Homo sapiens: one gene and its partners. The protein of the gene in region 4 interacts with the protein of the main gene of each other region in a pairwise test. Each region holds a gene or a part of one and is shown on either strand. Other genes may lie near its edges.

What was found.
Region 1: the proteins of PRPF18 (region 4) and KRT39 interact in binary tests that used the Homo sapiens proteins (3 or more experiments, as listed by UniProt).
Region 2: the proteins of PRPF18 (region 4) and BEGAIN interact in binary tests that used the Homo sapiens proteins (3 or more experiments, as listed by UniProt).
Region 3: the proteins of PRPF18 (region 4) and TSNAXIP1 interact in binary tests that used the Homo sapiens proteins (3 or more experiments, as listed by UniProt).

What each region holds. Positions count from the first base shown.
Region 1 is NC_000017.11:40,957,454-40,964,557, forward strand, and holds the end of KRT39 (keratin, type I cytoskeletal 39), read right to left. Parts: intron 7,076-7,104; coding exon 6,993-7,075; intron 6,331-6,992; coding exon 6,174-6,330; intron 5,111-6,173; coding exon 4,949-5,110; intron 4,835-4,948; coding exon 4,709-4,834; intron 3,049-4,708; coding exon 2,828-3,048; intron 1,407-2,827; coding exon 1,148-1,406; 3' UTR 964-1,147; downstream 1-963. UniProt on the Homo sapiens protein: May play a role in late hair differentiation.
Region 2 is NC_000014.9:100,563,101-100,571,172, forward strand, and holds part of BEGAIN (brain-enriched guanylate kinase-associated protein), read right to left. Parts: intron 6,693-8,072; exon of another isoform or gene 6,047-6,692; intron 5,878-6,046; exon of another isoform or gene 5,823-5,877; coding exon of another isoform or gene 5,799-5,822; exon of another isoform or gene 5,591-5,798; intron 5,394-5,590; exon of another isoform or gene 5,366-5,393; coding exon of another isoform or gene 5,345-5,365; intron 5,202-5,344; exon of another isoform or gene 4,840-5,201; coding exon 4,811-4,839; intron 3,984-4,810; exon of another isoform or gene 3,825-3,983; intron 1-3,824. UniProt on the Homo sapiens protein: May sustain the structure of the postsynaptic density (PSD).
Region 3 is NC_000016.10:67,801,182-67,810,191, reverse strand, and holds the start of TSNAXIP1 (translin-associated factor X-interacting protein 1), read right to left. Parts: upstream 3,304-9,010; 5' UTR 3,113-3,303; coding exon of another isoform or gene 3,043-3,112; coding exon 2,996-3,042; exon of another isoform or gene 2,807-2,995; intron 1-2,806. Other genes in the region: RANBP10 (ran-binding protein 10), read left to right, coding at 3,656-3,890, 4,653-4,764. UniProt on the Homo sapiens protein: Possible role in spermatogenesis.
Region 4 is NC_000010.11:13,624,965-13,632,431, reverse strand, and holds the end of PRPF18 (pre-mRNA-splicing factor 18), read right to left. Parts: intron 2,173-7,467; coding exon 2,092-2,172; 3' UTR 1,573-2,091; downstream 1-1,572.

The DNA of each region.
Region 1 (7,104 bases), on a different chromosome or scaffold from region 4:
ATGCAGGTGTAGGACTTCAGGCCTTTTGACTACCCATCTGTGTTTGATTTTGAATTATTTCTTAAAACCTCTGGCAATGTCCAATGATTATTGTCAGGAATGACTTACATATTCTGAGACTATCCTGTAAGAAGCTGTGATGATGGCTGGTATATAAATGATGCCTTCTCACATTGGGACTGCCTTGCACTTACAAGCAGCAATTATTCACTATTGCTTTTCTGCAAAATGTGTGGATATTATGTCCATTTACTCTGATGGATAGATTGAAGCAGGAATCTAAGCTATGTTTTTCTTTGTCACTCTTCACAGGGAGGGGAAGAAGGGTTATTTCTTGAGAATTCCAGCTAAATGTTCCTTGTCAAACAATCAGAACAAACTCCCATTCCCTAAAGAATAGAAAGAGAAATAGCAAATGTTTAATGAAAAGACCCATGCTATTTCTTCAAAGTGTTCTAGATTCACTCCCCACAACTTATCTGATTCTCAAATAAAATATTTGGAGAGCCTAATAGGTCACAAAGTTTTGGAGACCATGGACATTTAAAAAAATATCTTTGGAAAGGTAAAGTATGTTAGTATAGATAAATCATAATTAAGACAGCAGAGTTTAATAGGATCCATACTCGTGACTATCTACACAAGTGAATTAAATATTAAAGATCTTTTCCCCTATTTATACTGTTCCCATATATGTTTCTTTCTGTATCCAAAGACATTTAGAAGGGAAGGTTGTAGCTTTTCACCTTCAGGTGCCGGTGGCCAAAAACAACCCTAAACTTGTCTGACTGGCTCTAAGGAGGAATGTCGGTAAACAAGGCCTGAGTAAACAAGAGAGAGACCTGCCCATCAATCACCTGGGTAGTCAAGCAATGTAGGCCATCTTCCTGGGTGCTTACAAATCAGTTCCCATCCCTCAGATAAATGCAAAACATCCTTCCAGAGAAATGTAATTTATTATCATGTTAGCAGTGGTGAGTTAGGGAAGGAGCAGAATAAAAGATATTCTACCTAGCAATGGGGACCCGCTGTAGTAGTAAGAAACTAAGTACCTTAAGGGACTGGGGAGTTTTCTTAAACCTCTCTGGCAGGAGCATGTATTGGCCTCTGTTTCATAAATGTGGGTCATTTTCATCACCTTGGGATGTTAGACTTTGGCAGGTCTGATGATGAAACAAGGCTGCACATGCTCGTAAGAAGAAATGACCTTCCCATCCTTAATCTCCTTGGTGATGGTGCAAATTTTAACCAGTATCCGGGACAGGGGTCCGCAGGCACTGCAGTGCTCCTTTAAGCTGCAGGGGGATGAGGATGTGCAAGCTGGGGCCGTGCTTTCTATGGCTCCGGACTTACAAGATGTCCAAGGGGAAGGCTCACATTTGGTGGCACGTGGGTAACAGGGACGCCTAAGGAAAAAAAACACAATTTTAGCTGTGATTGAGGGAAGGCGATGATGGTCATGGAGAAAAATGATTGTGGCTAATTTTTTTAACACGTGTTGCTCAAGACAAGTACATACTTCTAAATGCTTATTCATTTATTTTGTACTGTAGTTACTGGAAGAAAAAGAATCAGATTAAATCCATTGGAAATCAGCATCCTAGGTTTAGAAGTATTCGATTATGTAAGTTTCCATTAGTCAATACCATCACATTGTGGAAAGAATACTGCACTAGCAGTCAAAAGACTGAGGCAGAGACCAGCTCTGTCCTTTACCAGCTGGTGACCTCAGCTAAGTCATTTAACGCACTCAACCTTTAGTTTTTCATCTGCAGAATGGATATAATGGAAACTAAACCCACAGGATCAACAGTGATAAGGAACAAGTTGAGGGCATTATTATCCGAGGAATGGAAATTAACCAGATATTTTTCTCATTGAGGAGTTAGTCATACTAATAGTGGTGGCCTGAACCCCAGCTATGAAAGAGTCCTCACTGTGTCATCAGGAAGCTTCAAAGTGCCTTCTGGCTGTCTATGCATAGTTTTTAGAGAACTGAAGTAAAAAGCAGTTCATAGTAAACACTCTTTTTATAAACATAATCTTTCTTTGATGATTCGAGGTATTTTGGTATATGATCACAGCTCCTAAAGGTGACAGCATTGATGACCATTGTGCTCACATAATGTGGTCATGCCAATTAAAAGAATGCTGTGAAGAGTTCACTGATTATTTTCGGGAAGTAGGTCTCCTTTGCAATTGTAACTAAGTCTCTGGGGTTTTAGTTTGGACTGAGTTGCTTCAAAGAACTCATCCTCCATATATGTTTACTTATGGGTTGGTTAGCTTCTTATTGCTTACAAAAATTATAACTTTTATTTTTTAAAAAAGATGCTAAAACATACATGTGTACATGCTTCTGTTGGCCTCAAGGACTAGTGGCTAGATAGGGTTAGGGGTTTCAGCCTGAGCAGAATGTTCCTCCAAAGGAGCCTGGGTTGTTTTGTACAAGCTCATGAAAATCAGACGTTCATCTCAGTGGGGAAACATCTGTAATGGTCACCAGGAATATTCATCTATGGGGAAATAATTTTTTCTCTAGTAATTTTTAAAACTCTAAGAAGGTAAGCAACCTATAAGAAATTAACCTGGCCCATGGGCTCTTCAGAACAGCTCAGGTCAGCCAATGCCTCAAATTTGGATAAGGTTACAATTGCAAGTCTTCCTCATGGCACAGCTTGAGAGGGTGTGTGGATGCCTCTGTCCAAGCTCCCCATCACTGGCAAGAAGGTCAAACAAAGCACTTGACCCCTGTTGCCAGTGGCAGTACATATATCTGCGTTCATTTACACTTTTTTGTCATAGAAGTTGCTGTTATTTTACATACTTGCCATCCGAGCTCTCCAGAAGGCTGCGGTATGTGGTAATCTCACATTCCAGCCGGGACTTGACGTCCAGCAGGATCTCGTATTCTTGGTTCTGTCTTTCCAGGGCACACCGGATCTCTGCCAGCTGAGCTTCCAGGTTATCAATCAGACTCTGGATCTGGGTCAGCAAGGCCGTGTAGCGAGCCTCTGTCTCCGTTAGGATGCACTCTTGGGAATCTCTCTACCATGGAGAAGGATAGTAGGATTTATAATGACTCCTTTAAGCCCAGGTCACCTGTGACCTGTATCATTTAAAAAAAATGGTTTCTTTGTGACACTACTGATAGATCTCCAAGCACTTTATTTATTGTTTCCTAATCAAATAAATCCAAAACCCAAATGATCAACTATGCTAAAATCTGCTTTCCTTTATCTCTTCCCTCTTTCTCTCTTTCTCTTTTTGCTTCTCTGTAAGTATTTGTTTCACTTTCTCTTTCTTGACCAACCAATAGTCTCGCACCACACTTTCCTACTTAGGAGAGAAAAAATAATAACTTAATGCACACCCAGGCATTAAAAATGCATTACTGGCTGGGCGCAGTGGCTCACGCCTATAATCCCAGCACTTTGGGAGGCCCAGGTGGGTGGATCACAAGGTCAGGAGTTCAAGACCAGCCTGGCCAAGATGGTGAAACCCCGTCTCTACTAAAAATACAAAAAATTAGCTGGGTGTTCTGGTGGGCACCTGTAATCCCAGCTACTTGGGAGGCTAAGGCAGAGAATTGCTTGAACCCGGGAGGTGGAGGTTGCAGTGACCCGAGATCGTGCCACTGCTGTCCAGTCTGGGCGACAGAGTGAGACTCCATCTCAAAAAGAAAAAAAAAAAAAAGCATTACCATGGCACTTCATTCAGTGAGTGTTCGTGTCTTAAAAAAGGAAGGAAGCAATGTTTTACCATATACAATTTATCCACCAGATCAATTCCTTTATATGTAAAATATGAAAGTTGAAACTGATGAGTAAATTTCATTCCTGCTCTATCATTCTGTAAGTCTATGGATAATGATGGGATTTTAGGTTTTAATAGCCTATTATTTGCATGATTATCCCAATTTTTATAGATGAGAAAACTGAGGTTCAAGTGGTTCAATATGTTGTCCAAGGTCACATGACTAGCTGGTGACAAAACCAGTGTGGGGCAAGGTCTTCCCAAAAGCCTTCACATCAGAGCATGTAAGCAATTCTCTACTTCAGAGAGGCATTATCATGAGACAGAATGATACTGGCTTTGGAATCTAAACTCTGGCTCAGACTCTTATTTCTTTTGTGACTTTGGATGAGTTTCTTAATGTCTCAGGATCTCAGTGTCTCTATAAAATAGGTGGGCTGAAACTTACCTTGGATTTGCTTGGGAAAATCACTTTAGCTCTTGGAGCCTCATCTGTAACATTCGTTAATAATTATGCCACCCCCCCTCTTAGGATTGCTTTATAAATCTCATGTGATAGCTTGTAAAAATGCTTTGCATATAATAAAATGCTCTCCCAGTGTTTCCCAAAGTGTACTTCATGAATCATTAATACCATGAGATGTTCTAAAAAAAGTGGGGGGATCCACAGTCAAATAAGTTTTGGAATGCTGAATACCATATACCCCCTTCCTGGAGATTCATGGTGTATATTAGCTTATTAATGGCTCACAGGAAGGCACCCTGTTTAACCTTGGTTTAGTGCAGCGTTTCGTAGACTTATTTGGCCACAAAGCTCTTTTTCAGCCATAGACGCTTTAACAAATGAGGAACTATTGTTCTGAAAGACACAGTTTGGGAAATACTGCAGCACACAGGTGTAAGGGACTGTTTCCATCTTTGCTGAGCTAGGCTTGGTCAGCTTGCTCAGTACCATTCGATGCTGGGCCTGCAGTTCAACCTCCAGAGTGTTCACACTGCGTCTCAGTTCTATGATCTCCTTTTGGCAGCATTGCTGCTGTTGAGAGCTGGTCACCACTTGTTGATTCAGCTCCTCTATCTGAAACACACAGCCAGAGACTGAGAATATTATGGGAGGAAAACATGACTTTGATTAAAGGGCCCTAGAAATGCAGCATCAGCTTATTGTTTTTGACTTTTCTATATCCCCCACCTGCGTGTTGAACCACTGTTCCACATCTTTGCGGTTTGTCTCCATGATGGGCTCATATTGACATCTCATTTCTTGTAGAACCTGGTTTAGGTCAGCAGAAGGGGCAGCAGTCACTTCAATGTCAAGTCTCTCCCCAAGCTGACACTGTAAAGAATTGATTTCCTAAGGAAAGAAAAAGACTGTGAAGTCACTTGGTGAACAGATAACCCCTTTGTGTTCTTGTTTCACTCTAACTGCTACGATTTAGCTTAATTGTGTCTAAAATATAGCCCACAACAAAGGAATACATGATTTACAGGTGTTATTGAGATGCTATAAAATGATTTAAGACTCTTTCAGGTAGGACTGTGTGTTTAAATGTGTGCAAAATTAAAAAAAAATGAGTAGCAAGACCAGAGTTCCAAAAAATTTAGATCATTTCCAGGGCTGGATAATGGGTGAAACAGGATAAAGGTGGAATTGATCATGAGAGATTATAGTCTCTATGGTGCAAATACGGGATTGTGCCAATATTGACTTGCACCAATATTGACTTGTACCAATGGGAGGTGGCAGAAGCCTGTATAGGGATGCCTACAAACATGGGAAGACTGTAAGGACAGAAAAATTGGGTTCCTTCTTGTAGAAAAGCTGGAGGGGATGTTGGAGGCCTTTCTTCCCCTTATGGCTCCAGATATTGTGTTGGAGCCAGTGGATTTGAAATACTACCTTGAACCAGTGCTAGTAGCAGTAGGTATTTTCAGGGCTAAACCAGAGTAGTACGTAGCAGTGGTTTGGCTCTGTGTCCCCACCCAAATCTCATCTCGAATTGTAATTCCCATAATTCCCATGTGTCAAGGGAGGGACCTAGTGGGAGGAGATTGGATCATGGGGGTGGTGTCCCCCATGCTGTTCTTAGGATAGTGAGTGAGTTCTCACAAGATCTGATAGTTTTATAAAGGGCTCTTCCCCCTTTGGTCTCTCTCTGTCTCCTGCTGCCAAGTGAGATGTGCCTGCTTCCCCTTAAGCCATGATTGTAAGTTTCCTGAGGCCTCCCCAGCCATGTGGAACTGTGACTCAGTTACACTTCTGTCCTTTATAAATTACCTACTCTCAGTTATTTCTTTATAGCAGTGTGAGAACGAACTAATACAAGCGGGCACACCCTTTGTCAGGTGCAACTCAAAGGAACTGATGCTACTTTTAGGGACTTAGCTTGTGATTACTCTATTGGTCTTTGTCTCACCTCTTTGTGGTTGTTCTTGAGGCAAAGGAGCTCCTCTTTCAGAGACTGGACTTGTGCCTCTAGGTCGGCCTTGCCCAGGGTCAGCACATTCAGGATCTGCTTGAGGCCATTGGCATCTGACTCTACCAGCTGGCGTAGAGACACCTCAGCTTCGTATCTTTAAAAACCAGATGGGAAAAGAGAGACATCTGAAAGGAGATGATGCAAACCAAGCCAAGCAGAACTCTCATCTGCATTTTGCTCTGGGCACCTCACTTAGTGTATTTCTATTAGAAGTTTTATTCTCTTTGGAGGTGAAACCATTTGATATAGATCATAACTTAATTATTATTCCCAAATTAGTTTGCTAGGGGGATCTACATTGCTGTTCTTTGAGATATGGGAATTTATTGTCCTTCCTCTGCCCCTAGTGGCAATGCAATGTAAGTGAAGAAAGCACTGGATTAGGGCTCAGAAAACATGTGTCCAAGTTTCGGTTTTGACTTGTGCTAGTTATGCTTACCTTTGGGTGAGTAACTTAGCCTCACTAAGCCACAGATTTCTCACCTTAAAGAGAGTAACAATATATTAGTCCTATCTATTTTACTGAACTATTGTGTAGGTAATCAAATGGGTTCACAAGTTAGAAACTATAGGTACTGTATACATGTGAGCAGTTATTAATCTTAATCATTCATTGAATTTGAAAGTCTTTTCTGGGCTTGTGCCAACATCATCTGGGGCAAGAGGGTTAGTAGACATGGGGACAATTTTGTTGAGGGCATCTCGGTCAGACTCAGGGTGAGCTCTGTCATTGATGACGGTGTTGGGTGGGCTTACTTGGCTCTCAAGTCATCTGCAGTCAGTTTGGTGTTGTCAATTTGCGAGACCAGTCTGGAATTCTCGGCCTTGGTACACAAGATCTAGAATTAAGAGATTGTACACACAAATG
Region 2 (8,072 bases), on a different chromosome or scaffold from region 4:
CATCCCTGGGACATCAGCCTGGCACTTCTGCAGAGTGTCTCAGCCTGGACAAGTGTCCGACATGGACAGGACCACAAGCACCGGTCATAGGAGTGAAGGAGAGAGTGTGGCCCGAACACCTGGGTGTCCTTGTGCAAAACCAAAACCAGAACCAAAAAGGAGCTCAACCTTGACCTCTAACCACATGCAAACCCAAGTTCAAGTGGATGAAAAGCCAATAGCCTCAGTTCTTCAGGAGGGTTCCTTAAACAAGACACAAACGCTTTAATCAGAAAGTGAAAAAACCTGACACATTCAACAAAATTAAAATTAAGAACTTTTGTTCATAGAAGGACCGTGTGAACAGCGAGACGCGGCGTCCCCCAGGAGGTGTGGCTGCTGCATGTGTAACTGACAGTGTGAAGAGCTCCCACAAATCAATGGGAAAAACACCTTGGTAGAAAATGCGCACGGCCTTCGCCGGTGAGGAAACCCAGCGGGCAGCAAACCAGGGCAGCCCACCCCAACAACGCTGGAGGGACAGTGATGGGGAGAAGCGGTTTCAAGAGTCTGTTCCGATCTTCCAGAGCTGACCCTATGCGCACCCTGTGCCCCGGAGGTTCCACTGAGGGTGCACACCCAGAATCGCAGCCCACATCCCCAGACACCCGCACAGGAGTTTCCTAAGGTGGCCCAGGCTGCACAGTGCCCGGCAGTCTGCCAGGGAACAAACGGATTTCAGGGAAGCCACCATGACAACAGCAACTGGTAGCTCCACCTACCACCACAAGGGACCCTCACAAACAGAATAGTTTTGGTGAAAAAAAGCCACCCCCAAAACACAGGCTGAAGGAATCCAGGTATGAGGTCCCAAAGCAGGCAACATACAACCATCTCTGCTGGGGATGCCCTCTCAGGTGGCAGAACCACGAGGACAGCAAGGAACCACTGAGCACAAGGTCGGTGTCCCGGTGACTGCTTGGAGTAGGATGGGGCTGTCTGTGGGGAAGGGTCTCGGGGGATCTTAGGGGCTGGCCGGGAGCAGGATGGGGCTGTCTGTGGGGAAGGGTCTCGGGGGATCTCGGGGGTTGGCCATGTTGAACTCCTTGACACAGGTGGTGGTCGCCAGGTGGTCGTTCTAAACTTAACCACTGAACTGTGCGGATATTTATTAATGTCTCTGCAGGCCTATCACAGTTCACGACTTTGAAAAATTCTATTTTGGGGGGAAAACGTGGACACCAAACAGGAGTAGCTCTGGGCACCCCAGGAGCCATGAGAGGCGACTGACCCACTTCTCTGTTTGACAGAGGAGGGAACCGAAGCTCAAATAGAAAAAGGGGCTGCCCAGCAGCACGCTGCAGGAGGCAGGCAGGAGGGACCCTGTTTGGAGGGAGAGGAGGGGATTAATTTGAGGGATTAGAGGCACAGAGGCTCTGAGCACACGGAGAGCCAGCCGGGACTTGGTAATATCTATAAATATTTGAGAGTCACAAGAATAGTTTTTCCAAGCAGTCGAAGACAAGATAGCTGAGTGTGGCTGAGCAAGGGTCAAAGGACAAGAGCCAAGGTGGCCAGGCCATCAAATGGTGTGGCTGCATATCTACCATGTGGCCCCCCGGCCTGTGGGAGCCCTACTGTGCGCCAGCCTCTGCCAGGCACTGTGGCTGTCAGAACACCAGGGGCCAGACCCCGGCTCTGTTCTCTGGGGTGCCCATCTGGGGCCCTGGGGAAGACAGAAGACACCCCAGATGTCAGTGGGAGCCCCACTGACCTCCACTCCCCACCCCTTACCTGTCTTCCCTAAACACATCTGCTCTGGGCAGCCCCCAGGCCTTTGCACCTCTTGGAGGGTGGCCTGTCTGTCCTTGGAAACTCCTACCCATTCTTCATGCCTTGGCTCAAGTGTCCCTGCTTCCCGGAAGCTCTTCCCAATACCCCAGGCCAGGGTTCACAACCTGGGACCCCAGAGCATTGTGGGCAAACCCCTTCTGTATTCTGTCCGCTGGCCTAGGAGGATCTGTTGTGGGCCTCTGTCCCCGGCACTGGAGGGCCAACCGGGTCTTTTCACAGAGCTGGTACCCAGAGGGGGCTGGAGTCCACTTGGGAGGGAGGGGCAAGAGCGTCATGAAAACCCCAGGGAAAAGGCGACAGGGAAGACACAGAGTTTGTCATGTGGACAAGAAGGCAGGGAAGGGCATTCTCTACAGCAGGGACTGCGTGGGCAAAGGCAGGGGCATGAAGGTGGCAGCTTGTGGGGAACTCGGAAGCAGGGCGACAGCATGGGGGGGCAGCCAGTGGGAGGGACCAGGGAAGAGAGACCCCTCAATGTACACCTGCCCACCAAAGGGAGCCATTGAGGGCCACAGTGCCACCAGGTGACATGGTCCTTTTGCTCTTCAGCAAATATTTACAGGACTGTCCCATAAGTCAGTCCTGGCTCCAGGCCCTGGGGGGTGTGGGAGAGGAGGGGGCCAGGACCAGCACTCTCAGAGCTCAATCCAGACCCACAGACCCAGCCTGTGATGTGCAGACTCCACAGTCCAGGGGCCAGGAGGCAGGACCGACCATAGGGTCATCCCTGTGGACACTTCAGGACCCCTTCACTGTGACCACCGTGTGGTCTGAGGTTCCCCAGAGACCCTCTACCTGGGCCTGCTCTGGGCCAGGTCCCAGGAGAGATGCTTCCACCACAGGGGCTCACGGCACCCAACATCCCTGCAACCTGGTTGTGGTTAGGACACCCACTTTACAGATGAGAAAACTGAGGCCCAACCAGGGCCAGGACTTTGTCAGTGACTGGGTCTGTGGGACCCCAAACCCTGTGCCCTTCTGTGCAGGAAGCCATGCTGACCAACTTCCCTTCCACTCCCCTGGGCTTTTGGTTCTGAATCCCAGGCACCAAATGCAGGACAGAAACCCACTGGGGCAGCCCCGACACTGGCCAGAAGGGAAGATTCTGGAAAAGCCCTTCAGGCAACTCTGAGAACACTAATTGGGTGAGAGGGAGAGGAGGGCAGGACCCCTCCCCAGTTCTAGGAGTCCTTGCCCCACGCCACCCCTGGCAACTCCAGAAAGGCCACATGGCCCGATGCAGCCCAGGAGCCCAGGCCCTGGCCACTGCCTCCAGCCTTTATGGCTTAGCCCAGGGAAGCCTCAGCCCGCCTGGGACAGCAACGCTGACGCCATCAGCAGCTCAGGCAGCAGATCCGCCCACCTGGCACACCTGCCTACCTGTGCACCCAGCCGGGCGGGGTCATGCCTCTGTCCTCAGTGCCTGGCACACAGGAATAGGTGCCGGAGAGCCTTGGCCGGGCACAGGGAAGGAGGGAAAGAGAAAGAGAACCACCGCAGGGAACCCCCAGGCTGGCCTCAGGGCACCCCATGAATGCTAAGTTTTTCCTCAAGTCTCAGCTGAGTTAAGCAGTGTTTCCTCCCCCCCACAGGCGGTACAACCCAGGTGGTGAAATGACAGCCAATGTGGGGCACCAGGGAAGGGCCCTGGCCTGGGCCAGAGCCTGAGTTTGGGCCTGAGGTCATCTGTGTGACCACAGCCAGGGCTGTCGCTCTTTGGGCCTCACCGCCCCCACCTGGACCTTGGCCACGACAAGGTGGGCCTGGCTGATGGGTATCAGGTATTTGGGGTCTGAGATTGAACCACCTCAGAGACTGGACCCCTCCTCCCAGCACAAGACATGTTGGTCCTGTCCCTGTGGGACCCACAGTGGGGGCTGCACATCAGCTCCATGGCCCAGGAGATGGCCCTGCTCTGAGAGTCCACCCTGGGTCTCTGTGTGAGCCCACCTGCCCCCAGGCTCCCACCTGGGTGTTTCCAAGCCACTCACCCACGGCACTAAGGGTCAGCTGGCAGAGCCCAGGGCCCCTCTGCCCTAGACCTGGGCCCAGGCTGGGCTCTGCTCCTTGGGGGAGGGATGCTCCTCTACCCGGCCTCCTCCCCAGGATGCCAATTCTGGCCTCGGGAGGGAGTGGCGAGGACGGAGACCCTGTGGGCCAGGGGAGACAGTGCTGAAACCCAGCAGCCAGAGCTGGGCCTGCCGCCCACACAACGCCTCGGCTCAGGCTCCGGAAGGAAAACACGGGAGGGGTGTTCCCAAAGTAGGGGTCAGGGTGCCAGGGGAAGTCGTGGAGGAAGTGGCAAATATTCAAACTGGCTGATCCCAGGCCTGCCGCGCAGGTGGTCCCGTGAAGTCTACCAAGGCTTAAAGTTTGGCACCGGGAGGGAGGCCGCGGGGGACACTCCCCAGAAGCTGTCGCGGGATTCCCCCAAAATGGCTCCAAGACGCGGCTGCCTGGTCCAGCCGCGAGGACTCCATCCCCCACCCCCGCCCCCCAGAGGCGGACACTTAAAAGCTCAGAGCCAGGCAACTGGCAGCCCGGGGGCTGGGGCGGGTGGTGGTTGGGGGTGGGGTGGGGTCGGGGGAGAGAGCGCCGGGGCAGTGCGGAACGGCACGAACGGAACCCGGAGGGTCCCCGGGGACCAGCGAGAGTCCAGGGCAGGGAGCCAGAGGGGCGCTGAGGACCGCACAGGACCAGGCGGCCCCGGGTAGGGGGCAGCCCGGCCCTCAGTGGCGCTAGCCCCAGCCCCCGCCGCAGCGGCCCGGGCCGGCGGAGGAGCCCCGCGCGAGGCTCCCCAGCGCCTCGCGGCGCGCACACACGCACCACACACACGCACCTGGCCCGCAGCCCCGCCGAGGCCGCCCGCGGGCCCTGGGGGATGCGCTCGGGTGGAGCCCCCTTCCCCCGCCTTCCCCAGCGCCCTCACCCCCGACCCGGCCCCCGCGAGCCGCGGCACGGGAGACGCTCCACTCACCTGAGTTTCTCCATGTCTGCGGCAGAGGCCTGCGAGAAACCAAACGAGAGGGTCAGCAGGCAGGAGGCGTGCGCTCCGCGGCCGCGCCGGGCAGAGCCGGGCACAGCGGGCACGGCCGGGCAACCCCGCGGGGCCCCGTCCGTGGGAAGCCCGGCGCCGCGCGTCCCCAGCTTCCAGTCCCGGCCGCGGCCCCCGTGACTCAGTGGGCGCGCCGGGCCGCGGCCGAGTAACAGGTGAGCCCGCCCGGGCCGCCGCGCTCCCCGCACCGAGTTACGCCCCCCGGGGCGAAGAAGGGGCCGGCCCGGGATGGCCCGGCCAGGGGCGATCTCGGCCTCGCCCGGAGGAGGGGGACTCGGCCTGTCCCCGTTAACTCTCCGGCGGCCGCGGCCCCGCTGCTCCCCCCGCCCCGCCCGTTAACCCTTCCTGCCCCGCGCTCCCTCCCGGAGGAAGCCGAACCCCGGAATCGCAGAACCTCCGAGTCGGAGAATGTTGGGGAATTCGGGGCCGTGCAGGATTGCAGAACCTGACACTCACACAATCCGAGGGCGATGGCATTTGGAGCCTCGACTCCTCAATCAGGGACCCGCTGCCCTCAGATTCTGGGGTTTTGGGCCTGGCTTGCCCCTCCCGGGCCCCAGGGATTAACCCGTGAGCGCCCGGCTCGCCGGCGGGGCTCCCTGCCTTGCTTGCGCAGACCCGCCCGCGCGCGGCTTGGAGACCCTCCCTGCCCAGCCCCGCTCAGCCGGGCAGCCCCTCCGCGCGCCGGGCAGGGGGACCCACCCGCCGCCGTTAACCTTGTGGGCGCGGGCGAGCGACGGGGACCGCGAGCGGCCCGGGCGGGATCGCACTTCCTGCGTGGAGCTGGGGGCGCCGGGCGGGCTCTCTATCACCCGGGAGAGGCCGCTCCCCGGGGCTTTGCCCGTCTTTCTGTGCCGTGACTGGCACTCAAGGGGGACAGGGGTCCGAGCTCAGGGACCACGCGACAGACCTGGGAAGACTGATGACTGCCCATCCCGGCCCCTCGCGCCGGGCGCCGCCGCCGCGTCCGCCGGGAGCGCGCTCCGCTCGGGTCCGGGCCCCACGCCGCCTCCCCCACCGCCCCGCCGGGCGAGGGCGCAGCCCGGCCGCAGCGCCAAGCTAGAAGGCCCGGCCCCGGGGCCTCGGCCAGGCTCGGCCACCAACTTCCCGGGTGCTCGGGCCGGCCTTCCGGCGCTCTCCCGGCCTCAGTTTCCTCACCTGAAAGCTGGGGGGAAGGGGGAGGCAGCTGGACGAGGCGCTCCACTGCCCTTCCGCACCCGCGGGCTGCGGATCGGCTGGGGTGGGGGAAGGAATTTCAGGGGAAGGGATCCCTAAGGCGCCCGGATGGCGGTTCCCCTCCCCAGACGCTCTAAAAGTTGTCCAAGACCACAAGCCTGGACCCCTCCATAAACCCTCCTCCTGCAAGACAAGGAGTTTGCCGGGAAGACTTTGCCGCCGGCCAGCGCGACCCCCACACCGCTCTCTTCCCCAGGCCCACCTTTCCGGGTCCCCATGACAGCGCTTCTCATGCTAGGTCCCAGCATACAGCAGGCGCTCAATAAACACGGACAGTGCATGCCTGGATCCTACGGCACTGGAGCCTGTCTTTCCTGGCCCTTTCCCCTCCTGGCTGTGAGCTCCCGGGCAGGAGCCCTGTGTTCTCACCAGGACACCCCCAGCACCCAGCAGGCTTGGCCTGCGCTGAGCCAGCGCAGGGTGGGAGGAGCCGTCCACTCAGAGGGTCAGACCTGAACCAGGATCAAACCAAACCCAAGAAATCCAAGTGTTCCTCCATCCACGGACACCCACTCGTTCACTAGCTCTGGGCTAAGTTCTCCAGCAGAGAGGGGACAGCAGACAAAGCAGAGAGGGGACAGCAGAGGAAGCAAGCTCTGCTCTCCAGGGGCTAATGAGGAAAACCCCCTCCGCCCCCCTCCGGTCCTGGGAGGCCACCCTCAGCAGAATGGCCACGGTAGTCATAACAATAACGTCCACCGCCCCTTACACATCATAGCGCTTCCCACGGCTCCTCACCACAGCTCTGCCATGGAAGCCCCGGACCCCCTATGCGGGAGCAAAGCTCCAACAGAGAAGAGGCTTGCTGGAGATCCCGCAGCTGAAGGGGCCCAGCTGCGCCTGGACCCCACTGCTCAGGAGCCTTTCCCACCCAAAGGCTGTCTCTGGTTGCCAACCTCAATCACTCACGGCGAATGACCTGCCAGGGAGTTTGTCTAAAATTAATAAGAATGTATTAAAATTTAATTTTAAAAATCTAGCATTAATTATTTACATTGAATGTTTCAGCCCTTCTAAAAGGCCTGGATGGGAATTCCCCCCACCCCCAGAAGGGAACTGGGGGGAAAGGCAGGGGAGGTTGCTGAGCTGCCCTGGTGGAGCAGTGGGGGCTGGGCAGGGCAAGAGACAGGCAGGGAACAGGCAGCCCCTGCCCTTCAAGCCTATTCTAGAGCCTGAAGCCTGGCTTTGATGCTGCTGTAGCTCAAATCCTCCTCTGACCCATTGCCTTCGGGGCAACCACTGCCCTCCCCCTTGGAGGCTGTATCCTCCATGCGGCCCTCTGTGGGAACTCTGGGGAGTCACTGAGTTTACCCCCACACCAGATGGGACAGGACTCTGTGTCCCAGCTCTGTGTCCCTGGACCAGCCCAGCACCTGGCAGGGGCGGGGGGACTAAAAGATGGGTTGTGCCTGATGCTCTCCATGCAGGAGTGACACAGGCATCTTTATGGGTGGCTAGGGAGAAGATAGCAGGGAAGCTCCCCTGGCCGAGGTGCTACGCCCTCGGGGACAGTCTCCCATGAGGCTCCTGCACGGGCCCAGCACCCCGGGTGCAAGTTTTGATTCAGCCATTCATTGACCACAAGACTCGGTGATTTTCGTGAGACCCTTACTACGGGTGAGGAAACGGAGGCCAGCGCATGAAGTGGCTTGCTCAAGTCCCCTGAGGTTAGCCGAGGCCTGCCTGATGGGCTGGAGAACCGCGGCGCTGCCTGGGTCTTGGGCCAGTGGGTGGGGGCCATGAGGATGAGGAGTCTGTGGGGTGCCCCAGGGTTCCCACTGTGAAGTGAGGGGGCGGGATCTCCCTTAGGGAGGCTGGGACCCCAGGGTGCACACTGGGTGCCCTCGGGGGACAGTCCTCATGGCACAGTCCTTCCCCGCCTCTGGGCGCTGTCCAGCCCCATTCACACCCGCTGCCTCTTCCTCCAACACACCTCTCCCCACCGTCT
Region 3 (9,010 bases), on a different chromosome or scaffold from region 4:
GCCCCAGGAAAATGCACAATTCGAAGGTCCCTTGCAGAGGGTCCTGATGACATGTTCCACAGTGCTAAGGTCTAGCTTATCCATCATGCTGCCCCTTTTTAAAGGGAAAGGATGAGGACATCCACAGTGTCTCTAAGAGAAACAGTGAGTCTGGCCCAACATCACTAAATGCTGGTGAATAAGGAATATGGTAGATTAATGATGTTGTATTTTTTTTTAAATTTTATTTATTTACTATTTTTTGAGACAGGGTCTCACTCTCTTGCCCGGACTGGAGTGCAGTGGCCCGATCTCGGCTCACTGCAACCTCCGCCTCCCAGGTTCAAGCGATTCTCCTGCTTCAGCCTCCTGAGTAGCTGGGATTACAGGTGCATGCCACTACCGCCTGGCTAGTTTTTGTATTTTTAGTAGAGATGGGGTTTCACTATGTTGGCCAGGCTGGTCTTGAACTCCTGACCCCAAATGATGTACCCACCTCAGACTCCTAAAGTGTTGGGATTACAAGCATGAGCCACTCACTGCTCCCGGCCTGTATTATTTATTTATTTATTTATTTATTTTTTTTTGAGACGGAGTCTTGCTGTGTCTCCCAGGCAGCTGGAATGCAGTGGCAAGATCTCAGCTCACTGCAACCTCCTCCTCCTGGGTTCAAGCAATTCTTGTGCCTCAGCCTCCAGAATAGCTGGGATTACAGGCACAGGTCACCATGCCTGGCTGATTTTCTTTCTTTTTTTGAGATGGAGTCTCACTCTGCTGCCAGGCTGGAGTGCAGTGGCATGATCTGGGCTCACTGCAACCTCCACCTCCTGGGTTCTCCTGCCTCAGCCTCCCGAGTAGTTGGGACTACAGGTGCAAGCCACCACACCTGGCTAATTTTTGTATTTTTAGTAGAGACAAGGTTTTACCATGTTGGCCAGGATTGTCTCGATCTTTTGACCCCGTGATCCGCGCACCTTGGCCTCCCAAAGTGCTGGGATTACAGGCGTGAGCCACCACGCCCGGCCATTTTTTTTTTTTTAATAGACAGGGTCTTGCTTTGTTGCCCAGGCTACAAGGCACTAGTGTGATCACAGCTCACTACACCCTCTCGAACTTCTGGGTTCAAGTAATCCTCCTGCCTCAGCCTCCTGAGTAGCTGAAACTTTTATTATTATTATTATTATTATTTGTAGGGACAGGGTCTTACTATGTTTCCCAGGCTGGTCTTGAATTCCTTACCTCAAGTGATCCTCCCACCTTGGCCTCCCAAAGTATTGGGATTACAGGCATGAGCCATCATGACCAGCCCTGTGCTTCTTTCTTAAAATGAATGGGGATTCTCTTTCTGGGTCTGCTTCATATCCTTTTCATAGAGAATGGCAGTTTACTAAATTAATCCTGTGCTGGGTAACAATTCTCTTTCTCTCTCTCTCTTTTCTTTTTCCTTTTTTTTCTTTTTTCTTTTTTTGAGACGGAGTCTCACTCTGTCGCCCAGGCTAGAGTGCAGTGGCGTGATCTTGGCTCACTGCAACCTCTGCCCTCTGCCTCCCTGGTTCAAGCGATTCTCCTGCCTCAGCCTCCCAAGTAGCTGGGAATACAGGTGCCTGCCACCATGCCCGGCTAAATTTTTTTTTTTTTTGAGACGTAGTCTCGCTCTGTTGCCCAGGCTGGAGTGCAGTGGCAGGATCTCGGCTCACTGCAAGCTCTGCCTCCCAGGTTCATGCCATTCTCCTGCCTCAGCCTCCCGAGTAGCTGGGACTACAGGTGCCCACCCCCATGCCTGGCTAATTTTTTGTATTTTGTAGAGACCGGGTTTCACCACGTTAGCCAGGATGGTCTCGATCTCCTGACCTAGTGATCCCCCCGCCTCGGCCTCCCAAAGTGCTGGGATTATAGGCGTGAGCCACCGTGCCTGGCCTCTTAGGGGCTTTTGTAGGCTTTTCTCTGTCAAGGCAGCAGACCCTGAAGAGTTTAGGTGGGATTGGGTGGTGTTTTTTTTTTTTTCCCCCACTGGGAATGAGTAGAAGGGGGGACACTACATTCATTCAACACTTACTGGGTGCCTATTACATACAAGAGCTGTGTCAAGAGCTTCACATATTCTGCCTAAATGTTCCCAACAATGTTTGTGGGGTGGGCTGTATCATTCCCATGTTTGAGATATATAAGCTGAGGCCTGGAACTTGAAGGGCCCTGTCTGAAGTCCCAAAACTAGAAAACGATTTAGCCAAAATTTTTGTTTTAATCCGTATGTATGGCTCTCCAGGCTGATGGAGCTGGTCATATTTTGCAGTACCCAGAGGCTATACACCTGAGTACAGGCAGAAGCTACCCAGAGGATGATCTCTCCAGGCTTCTAAAGTATTTCTTTACTTGTTCAATGGTAATATTACTACTTTATACAGTTGTTGTGAGGATTAAATATGGTACGTAGGCCGGGTGTGGGGGTTCACGCTTGTAATCCCAGTTTGAGAGGTCGAAGTGGGAGGGTCGCTTGAGTCTAGGAGTTCGAAACCAGCCTGGGCAACGTGGTGAAACCTCGTCTCTACAAAAAACAAACGAACAAAGAAACACCCAAAAATTAGCCAAGCGTAGTGGCGCATGCCTGTAGTCCCAGCTACTCGGGAGGCTGAGGTAGAAGGATCGCTTGAGCCCGGGAGGTCGAGGCTGCAGTGAGCCGTAGTAGTGCCACTGCACTCCAGCCTGGGCGACAGAACGAGATCTTGTCTCAAAAATAAAATATTTAAAAATGTGGTATATAAAGCATTTGGCATATAGTACATTCAATACAAGCTGGTTGTTACTAGTAATGATAAAGTGCGCCTACCGTTTTGCTAGCACGTAACGTCTTCACTGGGCTAAATCAGCCCGATTCTAACCATTGACTCTGTGGTGCTGGAGCCCTAGATCAATGGTCAGAGGCCAGCAGGAGGTGCAGAGGTCCGGATCAAGTGCCATTTCCCTCTCTAGAAGTACTCAAACCCTCATCTCTGCCCTCATCCCTGCCAGCGCCTACCTCGACGCGGACGAGAAGCTGTGGTACCGCGACTGCTGGCAGGCCATGACCCACGGGCAGGCGGGCAATCAGCACCCGCGGCCTGGGAAGCTGTGGTAGCGTACAGCCGGTCGCCATGGCGACCAGGCCCCAGAGGCCCCCCCGCGGCGGGGGCGGAGTCAGGGATGCGCCACGCCCCCGAGCCTAGCGCCCGCGGGCTGGGAGTAGGACAAAGTAGCAAAGGTGGACTGGGACCCGGCAGCGGGTGCCCTGAGAGTCAACCACTACAGCCGATTTGACCCCAGGTACCAGAACTGAGGCAGGGGGATGAACAGAGGCCATGGGGAGGGAAGTGTGCTGAGAGGCCGGAGCCGCTTTGCCGGCGGGAATGGTAGTTTTCGGTGTCCCGACGTCTCGATGGGACAGGCTTATGGCTGAGGACGGTTATACTACATCTCCCAGAATTCTCTACCAGCCCGAGTTGCTCCGCCTCTCGAGAGCTCTGCATTGTGGGGTATGGAGTTCGAAATGTGGTAAGGCGTGTCAGTGTCCAAAGAGGGGTGCCGGACTCGGACTCGGTTTCCCTGCGGCCCAGGGAGGCTCACGGGCCATTGGCTGAGCGGGGCGGATCTGGTCCCGCTCCTCCCCGCCCCCAGTGACACAATAGTAGCTCCCTCCAAGATGGCGGCAGCGACGGCAGACCCGGGAGCTGGGAACCCGCAGCCTGGGGACTCCTCCGGCGGGGGCGCTGGGGGCGGGCTGCCGTCCCCTGGGGAGCAGGAGCTGAGCCGGCGCTTGCAGCGCCTGTATCCCGCGGTCAACCAGCAAGAGACTCCGCTGCCGCGCTCCTGGAGCCCCAAGGACAAATACAACTACATTGGTCTCTCCCAGGGCAACCTCCGCGTCCACTACAAAGGTATCGGCCCGTCAGGCTGGGGGGAATTAAGGCTAGAGCGTCCGTGGGGTGGCTCTGCTGCCAGGCCCCCGCCCTATCACCTCCCTTTCCCTGCCTAGGTGCTCCAAGTTAGGGCTTGGCCCTTTCAGGATGTCCAGGGTGGTGAGGCTGAACAGGCCGAGGGCTGACTGCCTGTTCTCTGTCCTGAGACACCTGCCGTCAAGAGAACCGCAACAGGTGTCCAAACCCAGTGCTGGGCCGGACCTTCCACTCCAGGGCCTCCGTGCTTATCCTAGGCTGGCGCCAACGGCAGCGGGACCTTTCGCCACTGCTTAGAAGAAAGGGGTGGTCACATACCTACCATTAGCGTGAGACTCATGGGCTTCCCCACCTGCCAGGCATCCTAGACTGAGCCTGGGGTTCCGTGCTAGAGTTTGGGGGGTGTCTTCCAGGTCGGCCTCATCCTTCTTCCCCTGGCCTCCCAGGTGGGCTGCCTGGATTCTAGAGAGGCTGCCAGCAGCACTTGAGTATCTCTCACATTGCCTCTACCCTTGTTTTGTTTGTATGGGCAGTGTCTCAGGCAGGACTGCTGTTCTCAGGAGGAGGTGAGGCAAAGGTGGAAGGTTTAAGTGTTTATTCAGTTGTCTAATGATTCCTCGGCCTGTGTAAGTGCGTCCTCTGGCCACAGAGGAGTGGAGTTGTCATGGAGGAGTTGCAGAGAAAAATGAGGCTTCCATTTGCATTTCCTTCTGCTGAAATTTCTTACTTGCCCTCTCCTGTTAGGTCATGGCAAAAATCACAAAGATGCGGCCTCAGTGCGTGCCACCCACCCCATACCTGCTGCCTGTGGCATTTATTACTTTGAAGTGAAGATTGTCAGCAAAGGAAGAGATGGGTAAGCCCTTCATGACCACCCTCTTTCCCTGATCATGGAGCTGATCCCTGTGGTCAGAGTTCAGGTCCTTTGGCTGGCACTTGTTGCTGATGTGAGCTGGGGAGCCGCATGGGTCTGGGCTGCCATTATTTCCTGACTGTGGGCATGGTCTGGTCTAAGCAGCAGATCTTGATGGCCAGTGGGTGTGTTGGGGGTAAAGCAGGGATTATTTTTAGTGATGATGTAATTTGATACCTAGAAGGTTAGGCAAACAAGTAACAAGTTTACTTTAAAAATTTAGTGTCCAGAATGGAGTTTCCCTCATGAGCATGTGGTGTTTTTGTGACTTCCTTCCTTTCACATTCTTGCTGTATTCATGAGGTTCTTTTTTATGGCATTTAGTCATGTGGAGGCCCTGGTAGCCTTCAAAGAGATAGTAGAGTCTTTGCAGCATTCATGAAAGCTTCTGTGGCCACCGGCCTGTCATCTCAGGGTAAACAGCATACACATGATCAGAATCAGGTGACCTTGCTGCTCATAAACTTGTTTTTCAGTCCAAGGACTTGAACACTACTAGTTGGATCAACTTTAGGAAGGTCCTCATTAAAGTCAGCATTAGGAGCCAGGCACGGTGGCTCACGCCTGTAATCCCAGCAATTTGGGAGGCTAAGATGGGCAGATCACCTGAGGTCAGGAGTTGGAGACTAGCCTGGCAAACATGCTGAAACCCTGTCTCTACTAAAAATACAAAAAAATTAACTGGCATACCTGTAATCCTATCACTTCAGAAGACCGAGGCGGGCGGATCACTTGAGATCAGGAGTTCAAGACCAGCCTGGCCAGCATGGTAAAACCCCATCTCTAAAAAAAAATTCAAAAATTAGCTGGGTGTGGTGGTGTGCACCTGTAATCCCAGCTACTTGGGAGGCTGAGGCATGAAAATCACTTGAACATGGGAGGTGGAGGTTGTAGTGAGCTGAGATTGCACCACTGCACTCTAGCCTGGGCAATAGAGTGAGACTCTGTCCCAAAACCAAACAAAAAAAAAAGTCAGCATTAGGGAGACTCCCTATTTTAGGATGATCCAAGCAGACACAGGAAATCATAGGGGAGATACTTAATTTTTTTTCTTTCTCCCAGTCTCCCTTTTTTTCCCAGTGATTGTGACGAAGCAGGTGTGTAAGTTATGAAGTAACATGACTGCAGCTACCTTGGAAAGGCTTTCCTCATCAGACTTTAGGTTTGGTGTCTGAAGTTTGCCAACCCCTCTGGTGACCATGCCAACGCTGAGGGTGTGTTCTCGAACATTCAGAACTTCTTTCTCCTAGGGACTGTCCCCTTTGTAGTGCATGCAAAATGCTTGGCCAAGGGACTAGGCTGGGGGCAACACTGCCAGAGTCAGAGCCTTGCCTACTTCCTCAGTGATGTAACTTCTCTGCCTGAGAGGTCTCTGTGGTCTTGGGTAGATGTTGGAGCTTCAGTCTCCTGATCTGCACTGTGAGGATCCAGGCCAGCATCTAAGCTGCCTGAACTCCAGAATTCTATGCCTCTGAAATTCTGATCATGGGAAGCTGCTGTATCTTTCTCTCTCTCTCTCTTTTTTTTTTTTTTTTTTTTTAATGAGATGGGGTCTTGCTCTGTCTCCCACGCTGAAGTGCAGTGGCAAGATCACAATCACAGCTCACTGCAGCCTCGACCTTCTGGGCTCGAGTTATCCTCCCACCTCAGCCTCCTGAGTAACTGGGAATACAGGTGCATGCCACCACGCCTGGCTAATTTTTTTTTTTTTTTTTTTTTTGAGACGGAGTTTTGCTCCTGTTGCCCAGGCTGGAGTGCAATGGCGCAATCTCAGCTCACCACAACCTCCGCCTCCCAGGTTCAAGTAATTCTCCTGCCTCAGCCTCCTGAGTAGCTGGGCTTACAGGCATGTGCCACCACACCAGGCTAATTTTGTATTTTTAGTAGAGATGGGGTTTCTCCATGTTGGTCAGGCTGGTCTCAAACTCCTGACCTCAGGTGATTCGCCTGCCTTGGCCTCCCAAAGTGCTGGGATTACAGGTGTGGGCCACCGCACCCAGCCTAATTTTTTAAATTATTTGTAGAGATGAGGTCTTGCTATGTTGCCCAGGCTGGTCTCTAGTGATCCTCCCACCTTGGCCTCTCAAACTGCTGGGACTACAGGCATGAGCTACTGCACCCGGCCATCTTTCATTTTTATCCCCATCTAGTGCGTTTACAGACAGGAAAGTTAAATTTATGGGAGGGCTTCAAAGCTCCTATTTTCACCTTCCACCGTCTGATAGAAGCACATATATTTAGTGTGCTTGAACTAGTGTGAATGAGAATAGCCCCTTAAAACAAGCACCTTGAAAATAATGTTGACTAAAATGGTGGTGCTGGAGTCTCATACTGCCACAGAAACTGAAGTGCACTTCTTAAATTTGTAGGGAGGAAAATGGATTGTTTTCTCCTAGTCTTTATCATAGATAACAGCTGAGTTAGTTATCTAGGTAGAGAGCAGAGACCAACTTCAGAAGGGAAGTGTTTACACTTAGAGACCTGGATTCTTTTTTTCTTTTTGTATTTTTTGAGAGATGAGGTCTGGCTATGTTGGAGATCTGGATTCTTTCAACTGGTTTTAACATTTCAGTTTTAGTCGATCTTGCTGTGTCATGTTAGATTGGTGAACTATAGGTGTTGACTGGAAGTCTAAAGAAAGGTGGGCATCTATTCCCAGCATTTTACATGTGGTAAACATGGCTGTTGAGCTGATCTGGAAACATCAGATGTTAATTAATTAATTTATTTATTTGCCACACAGTCTCCTTTATCATCCAGGCTGGAGTGCATTGACTCAATCTCGGCTCATTGCAACCTCTACTTTCTGGGTTCAAGTGATTCTCCTGCCTCAGCCTCCCGAGTAGCTGGGATTACAGGCATACGCCACCACGCCTGGCTAATTTTTGTATTTTTAGTAGAGATGGGGTTTCGCCATGTTGGCCAGGCTGGTTTCGAACTCCTGACCTCAGGTGATTCACCTGCGTCAGTCTCCCAAAGTGCTAAGATTACAGGCATGAGCCATGGTGCCCAGCAAGGAAACATCAGTTTTAGAAAGGTCTCAGGTCATGTATACCTGTGGTATCCTGCTTCAGTTGACCACTGTCAGATGGCAAGAGTATGAATAGCTCCTCATGGTCTCTTTATGGAATCCCTGAAAGCCTTCCCATGGCTGGGATGCAGCCACATGTTAGTATGGGCCAGGTGGGTTTTGAGGAGGCCAAAGGCAGTTACACAGGGCAGGCAGACATCAACTGGCTCATTTCCCTTTTTTTGTAGATTTTTTTTTTTTTTTTTGAGGCAGGGTCTCGCTCTGTTGCTCAGGCTGGAGTGCAATGGCATGATCACAGCTCACCGCCACCTCAACTTCCTGGGCTCAGTCAATCCTCCCACCTCAGCTTCCTGAGTAGCTGGGACTATAGGTGTGTGCCATCATGCTTGGCTCATTTTCTTATTTTTTGTAGAGATGGGGTCTCACAATGTTTCCTAGGCTGGTCTTGAATTCCTGGGCTCAAGTATTTCTTCCACCTCAGCCTTCCAAAGTGCTGGGATTATAGTCATGAGCCACCATGCCCAGCTGATTTTTTTTTTAACTATTTTATAGAGATGGGATCTTGCTGTGTTGTCTAGGCTGGTCTCCAACTCCTAGCCTCAAGTGATCCTCCTGCCTCAAAGTGATCCAAAGTGCTGGGATTGCAGGCAGGAGCCACCATTGTCAGCCTCCCATGGATTTTGGAGGTGTGTTTTTTATCCTGGTTTAGTCCATGACCCAAGCATTAACTGGTTGTCTAGCTTTCCTGTGTTACCTAGTTTGATCCTCACAGCATCTCTGGCAAGTGGCTAGAGCAGGTGATCATCTACCTTCCCATTTTGTGAGTGAGCCCTGAGTCCCTGGGATGTTTGGTGGCCTACCCTGGCTGCAGGGCTTAGGGTGTGCAGTGGAGTAGCCTGACTTATCAGATGTCCTCGCCTGATCCTAGACACACATGTCCATGCTGCTGCTGCCTTTCCCCATTGTAGCTGTTGCATTTCTTCCCTGGGTAGAGTGAAGGAATGTTCTGTTGGATTCCTACCAGATTGCAATGTTAGGGGACAGAGCTGAAAGGTGCATGGTGCTGTGTAGGGCCAGAGAATTGTGGCATGCTCTGGGCCGGGCTTGATCAACTTACTGTTCCATTTAATCTGTAAACTTGCTTTTCTGTAGATTTGA
Region 4 (7,467 bases):
TAGATTGCTGTCATATCTTACGAAAGTCTGTCTCTCACTTGCGCTGGTAAGTTACACTAAGCTCTAACTGATTTTTTTTTGCGGGGGGGAGGGGACAGAGTCTCACTCTGTTGCCCAGGCTGGAGTGCAGTGGCACGATCTCGGCTCACTGCAAGCTCTGCCTCCTGGGTTCACGCCATTCTCCTGCCTCAGCCTCCCGAGTAGCTGGGACTACAGGCACCCGCCACCATGCCCGGCTAATTTTTTGTATTTTTAGTAGAGACAGGGTTTCACAGTGTTAGCCAGAATGGTCTCTACCTCCTGACCTCGTGATCTGCCCACCTCGGCCTCCCAAAGTGCTGGGATTACAGGCGTGAGCCACCGCGCCTGGCCCCCTCTAACTGATTTAATAACAAGAAAAGGTTTCCAAATGAGGGAGTGGGAGGCAAGGAACCCCAATTCAATTCCAGACAGCGGACCTCAGCCACCACCATGCATATAACCATCAGAAACGATCCTGTCTAGGCACAGCAGAAGAGCACAAGTGGCCAAAACTGGCTTTTGAACCTCCCCAAGGTTTGAACCTCCCAAGAGGAACCAGAATAGACCGCTGTGAATCTACATCCCCCTACTTGGTGACATCTAGCTTCCACCACATCCCCGGCCCTTCTCAATGCAGAAGTGGCTGAAAGCAGGAACAGCCGCAGGGTTCAGATACAGTAAATGCTTAATCAACGTTTCCATGATTACTGCTGTTGCTGCTAACACCATCATTATTACTGTTATTGTTTTGTGAGGACACACTGCCCCTAAACACAGGGCTCCTGAAAGGGACTCTGGCTTCCCTCTAATGACAACAGTGACACAACAACTAATATTTACGAGCTCTTATTATTTGCCAGTGTGCTCAGCATTCTGCTTGAACACAAAAGTGATGCTACGAAGCATGGACTATTATTACCAACTACCATTTAAGACAACGAAGCTGACGCTTAGAAAGATCCAGTTGCTTGCTAAAGTCATACAGCGAGCAGGTGCAGAGCTGAGATGTGAAGCTGGAAGTTCTGCCTTTGGAGCCCCCGCTCTTACCGCTATCCAGCGCCACCACTCCACCTGCTCCGGGAGCATCCACTCACACATGCTGCCATGTGAACAGAGGCCTCTCGGGTTCTAAAGCATAGTAACAGGTCACAGTGATATCTGAGTATGACATTGTGCAACATTAGAACGAGCCCTCACTGTGGAAAACCAAGGCCAGGACAGACTCTCGGGTGGGGACATCAGTACCAGCACCTTCCTCCTCTGTTGGCGGGTGTGGCTGGGAACACAGTCTGCCCAGGTCTACCAGCATCATCACAATTTCCCCACTCTCCCTGGCATCACAAACCACTGTCCCACCTTAACCTTGATGCACTGGGGTTATTCTGTTTTGAACTTAGTTTGCTATGATGTGCCATCTCTGTTTCTTCAAACTTCTATTTCCTATTAATTGTATCTGTCCTGAGAGATGACAAATACTAAAATTTACACTTCTTGGAAGATAAAAGCAAGCTTTGAAATGCAAGAAAAATAACATTTGAGTTATACCAGTAATAATATTTACATTCAAATTCTATTGCAAGACAGCAAAAGTTCAGCAACATTTAAGGACTATAAAGTTTCATTCAATGGTCCCATGTTTTTGAAATATATAAAAATATTTTATATAAATATTACATAAAAGACAATAGGCAAATTATAATATTTTACTGAAATAATTAAGTCCATCCTCAAATGTTTCTTTTTAATCATCTAACCACAACTTTCGGGTCAACTGAAAAAAAGGTCATTTTAAACCCCCTTCTGTTGTCTATGGATTTAAATTGTGAGGAAAAATCTTTAAAACTTAATTTTGGACTAATTAAAATGAAAGCAAGAAAGAAAAATCAGCTTGCAGTCAGATATGAAATGAAGGCCAACAAAGTTCTTAAAACCAATCAAGAGTTACATCAGGTAGAACTCAGAGACTGGAAACTCCAGTTTTCTTCTTTCCTCATTCCTGTTGGTAATTCCAGAAGTCCACAGCCTGCTTCCCTAAGTTTCTTATTGTTATTAACACACCATACACAGATCTCACAGTGCATTGTACTCCACACATTTGGATGGGTCTGTAGGAAAGTGTTTCTGGCAAATGGTCATTAACCTCTTCAATCCCTAAGAAAATAAGGAAAACAAAGGTTGGTTATGACATGGTTAAATTATTCTTAACTGCCTTCCTCTGAACTCGTTATCAGTTTGTCAATGTCCCCATAAAATGCAGCAGACCCAAGCAAATTCACTCAGATGTATGCCTAGAGAAATTTTTCTTGTGCACCTGCAGGTCCACACAAGAATGTTCATCACAGAACTGTTCACAATAACAAAACCAAAAAACTGGTAACAACCCAAATTTCCATCCATAGGAGGACATATGAAAAAAACTTTAGTGTGCTCACAAATGGGATATCTTACAGCAGTAAAAATGAATTAACTCTAGCTACATGTAACAATTCGGCCAGTCTCAACCAGGTTCCAATAGAGAATTAAGCTCCAAATGCCCAGCCTAAGGCATCCATTGTATGTAACGAGATAACTTCTCCCTTATGCATCTAAAATTTAGGAGACTATTTATGTATCATGTTTGGAGGACTGAGAAAATACACTCCAATTATTTTCTGTGTTCTGTGGTCAAGATGAGGGGCTCTGGTTGGGAAAGGCCGATGTATATGAATCTTAGAAGCAATGTCGAAAGTAAAAAGCAAGTGGCATGAAGTGTTACTACCTTCAGTGACATCCTTTTCATAAAATTCAAAAACAAGTAAAAAATGTATTACTTAGAAATGCACATATAACATGGTGGAACGGTTTTTCAAAAAGAAAGGAAATGACAAACTTAAGTGCAAGGTAATGGTTACTTCTGGAGTATGGAAGGACAATATTGTTTCAATGGTTTTCAGAATGTTCTAGTTCTTAAACTGGGAGTAAGGCTTTTAGACATTCATTTTATTACTTACTTTATAACTTGTGTTTTACATGTATTCTTTTGTATGTACCAAATATTACACAATAAAACCACTTTAATATGTCAGTAAAAACTGAGTACAACATTCCAAGCGTGACCTGGCCATTCTTGCAGAATTCACTAGAAGTAGTCACTGCACTACTTTTGTTCTGTATCTTGGCAACTGTAACCAAGACCCTTAGCTGTTTTTAGACAACTACAATACACACACCTAATTCCCACCGATCTCACAAAATTCAAGTGCCTTTTGTCTCTACAGCAGTTTGGCCAGTTCTCCAGTGTATAACTTTATAGTTAGATTTTTTAAGCTGATGAAAACAACTATCACTATTCAATTTCATCCTGTCTCTTTCAACTCATCCTTCAGTCTGTGATCTTTCAGAATCCTTGGTCGACATTTAGCTTTAGTTATTCTTCTTAGCTTTCTCATCCACCACTCGGTAAACATGTCCTCTAAGTCATTATCCAAATACTCAATACCGTGCGCAAACAGGCCAGGGCAAGGGCAGAGACCTGAGACACACCACGATTGAGCTCTCTCCAAAACGATCTTGGGAAGAGTTTGTAACCAGCAATGAATCCTATTCACTGTGCAATTCATTAACACACACATTTCCTTGTTTACAAGGAAAGACTTTGCCAAAGGTCTTACTGAAATCTACGTAACTTAACACCTGTTAAGCTCAATAAAATCACCAAAACAAACAAACAACACAAAAATCCCTGCAAAATCTCATTGGTCCCATAGTAAGCAGACAACACAAATATTAATCACAGTCAGTATCCATGGGTTATGTGTCCATGGATTCAACCAACCCTGGTTAAAAAATATTCAGAAAAAAACGGCAACAAAAAAAGAATTAAAAATAATACAAATAAATATCATATAATAACTATTTAAATAGCATTTACATTGTGTTGGGTATTGTAAGTAATCTAGAGATGATTTAAAGTATACAGGAGGATGTGCATAGATTATATGCAAATACTATGTCATTTTCTATCAGGGACTTGAGCATCCAGATTTTGGTATCTGCAGGGTCCTGGAACCAATCCCTGAGGATATTAAGGGACAAATGACATACTTCTATGAATGGAGCCATAATCTAACAGATTCCACATCAGAGAAACAAGACTGTGAAGTATTTAAAGTCCTTGGTGGATTCAAGGATTGCCCACATTATGAGATTTAGGAATTAGGGGTGTGGAGGGAGGTTATCTTTCAACTGATTCACAAGAAGGGCTTTTGCACACGTCATTCACTTGGCTCCTTTTTGTTGTTGTTGTTCCCTGTGTAATCAGGTATTTGCTTTGGGATAAAGACCATTCCATCACATAGTCCAGCTTATCCTGCTGTGAATTCTAATCATGTGTATGCAGAACTTTGATCGGTAGCCATGGAAATATAGATGATAGCACTAATTTGGCATCTTAAGGTTCCTGAAGGAATAGGTGAGAAGAGGGGCAAAGTCAGGCAAGAGAACACCCTGATGAAATACAAATAGCTTCACTCAGCAGCAGAGCATGGCAAGAATTGTTATGCGCAAGCGGAAGGCAAACTGATGGTTTGCCTTGGAGGTGGTTTTCCCCATGTCAGAAGAATTGGAATCTTAGGTGTGTGCTCCTTACAGAAGACGTGTGTGATGCCTATTTATACTCACTAAGCAGATTCTATGATTTAAAAACATATACTAGTGTTCTCCCTGAAATCTTAGCTGCCAAGGGTTGTGAAACTCAATTGTTTTAGTCATAAGTAGTTACCACAGAGCGGTATGATACATTTTTGTAAAAAAGATTTGAGAGTGCATGGCAGAGATAGGTGTGTAATCTCAGGACAGAATATCGTTATTTTCCAGATGGAAACAAATCTTTTCAATTAGACCCCTCAGGATTTCAGTTTCAAACTGCTTATGGATGCTTAAGCCAGTAAAACAATGAGCTGCTTAGCTTAGCTTATGGCAAATGGCTTAAAAACTTGTGGTATTTTTAATTGGCTTTTTATTTATATAAAGGCAATACCCTTATCTAACAAATGTTTATTCAGTGCCTACTATACATACTGTTCTAGGCTCTGGAAATACAGTAGCGAAGAAGCCAGAAAAAATCCCACCCTCCTGAGATCGAATTGTGGTAAGGGAAGACAGGCAAGAAACAAAATAAATTCATAAAAAAAAATTTTCAACGATGCTAAGTGCTTTGGAGAAAATAAAGCAGGCAAGTGGGGTAAGTGGACGTGTGGGGCAACCTGAAGGACTTTGGCTTGGACTCTGTGAACTAGGAAGCCCCTGCAGGGTTCTGAACAACAGAGCAACACGATCTGACTGTATGTGAACTGGATCAGTCTGGGGAATGCTGCTAAGAAACTGGAGAGGAGCAATAAGAGAAACTCAGGGACCAGAGAGAAGACACTGGAATAATTCAGATGAGAGGTGGTGGCTGGACCCAGTGGCAGCAAGGAAGGTGGTGAGAAGGGATCGGGCTCCAGACATACTTTGAATATAGAACCATCAAGCTTTGACATGGATAGGATATGGGTTGTGACAGGAAGAAAAAAGCCAAGGATAATTCCGGGTTTTCTGTGTACACTGTTTGAGGGGAAAAAAAAAAAATCACACGATTCTTGTATCAAATAATAGCAGTCCTCTACCTCACTCTTTCCAAATCCTAATTCCAGCTCTCCACAGGCAACCCTTTTCAAACGTTTTAAGTGTTTCCTCTGGCATTTATTGCCACATTTCTAAATACTATACTGACAGTGCTTGGTTTTTCCACCAGATATTAGTGATATCTCCTGACTTCCTACTATGAAGCAGAGGATATCTCACTCTTACACCACTGTCCACTGGCCCCACATATGCACGCACACGCCTCAAAAGCACTTTCTCCCACATCCTCCCCAAACCACATTTTTAGTGAAATCAATATTCAGGGTTTTCCTTATAAAGGCTACACAAATATCGTTCAAAGCAAACCCACATAACATATTATGATGATGACCTCTCATAAGTTTTTTTCCCCTTTTTGTTTTGTTTTTCTAATCCATTCTCCAACATGAGACTACCCTCACATGCCCAAACATCACTCAGGATCTGATCAGACATGCCAGGGAATATAAGCTCTTCCATTTCTTCCTGGAGTCCTTCAACCATCTACTCTAACCTGGACCCACTTGTACTGCTACCATCCTGGAGCATGACATCCCTGCAGCTCCAGCCTGGGGATTCCTCTCGCCTTGCTCTGTGGTGGATCTCAGCTCTTGGATCTTTTTCTTTGGATGGAGGACATCCTCAGGTAGAGTCAAGACTGCCCACATTCCAATCCCAATTCTACCACTGACTAGCCATGTGACCTTGAGAACTCACTTCTCTACGCCTCTTCCCCACTTACAAAACAGGGAAATGTGAGTGTCCATCTCATATTGTGGCTGTAAAGTACTGAAGGGAAGCACAGTAAGCACTACTTAAGTGTCAGCTATGACGATAATGACTACAGAGAATGTGTGCATGGGAGATGTCATTAGCCTATATTTACCCTTCACTTGATGGTTCAGAAAGGAAGAGAATTCTGAGTTGGACAATATTTCCCTAGCTATTGCAAAGGTACTGCTCTACTGTCTTCTACCTTCTAGTGCTATCAGTGAGAAGTATGACAGTATTTTAATTCCTGCACCTTTGTAAGCGACCTTTTCTCTGAAGTCTTTGAAATCTTCTCTTTAGCTTTGGCCTTCCAACATGCATTCTTTTGTGCCTTGATGTGAACTCTTCCTATTCATTTGCGCTGTATTAAGTGAATTCTTTTCATTCTACAAACTCACGTCCTTCAGGTCTGGGACGTTTTCTTACATTAATTCTTTATTTCCTATCTTCCCTTTTCTGTTGTAATGGCTATAAACGTTATAGATTGACTCTTATTTTCTTACCTTTCCTGCTTTTCATATTTCAACTTTATCTTCTAACCCACTAATGTAATTACTAAATTTTTGCTGATTTAAATTTTTGCTAATTTTTAAGAGTTCATTTTGATTCTCAAACTTTTTTATAGCCTAATGTTCTTATTTCATGGCTACAACGTTACCTAAGAATTTTTTTGTTTGTTTTGTTTTCAGACCCGTCTGTCACCCAGGCTGGAGTGCAGTGGCACGATCCTAGCTCACTGCAGCCTCAAACTCCTGGGCTCAAGCAATCCTCCTACCTCAGCCTCCTGAATAGGCATGCACCACCACGTCCAGCTAAATTTTTTATTTTTTGTAGAGAAGGGATCTATTTTGCCCAGGCTGGTCTAGAACTCCCGGTCTCAAGCACCCCTCCCACCTCAGCCTCCTAAAGTGGTGGGATTACAGGCATGAGCCACCACGCTTGGCCTCTAAGGATATTAATTATCATTCTCAATGAAATTTTTTTCTGTTCTCTATAATTCTGTTTCTATGAAGGTCTTTTTTTCTGTGTGTT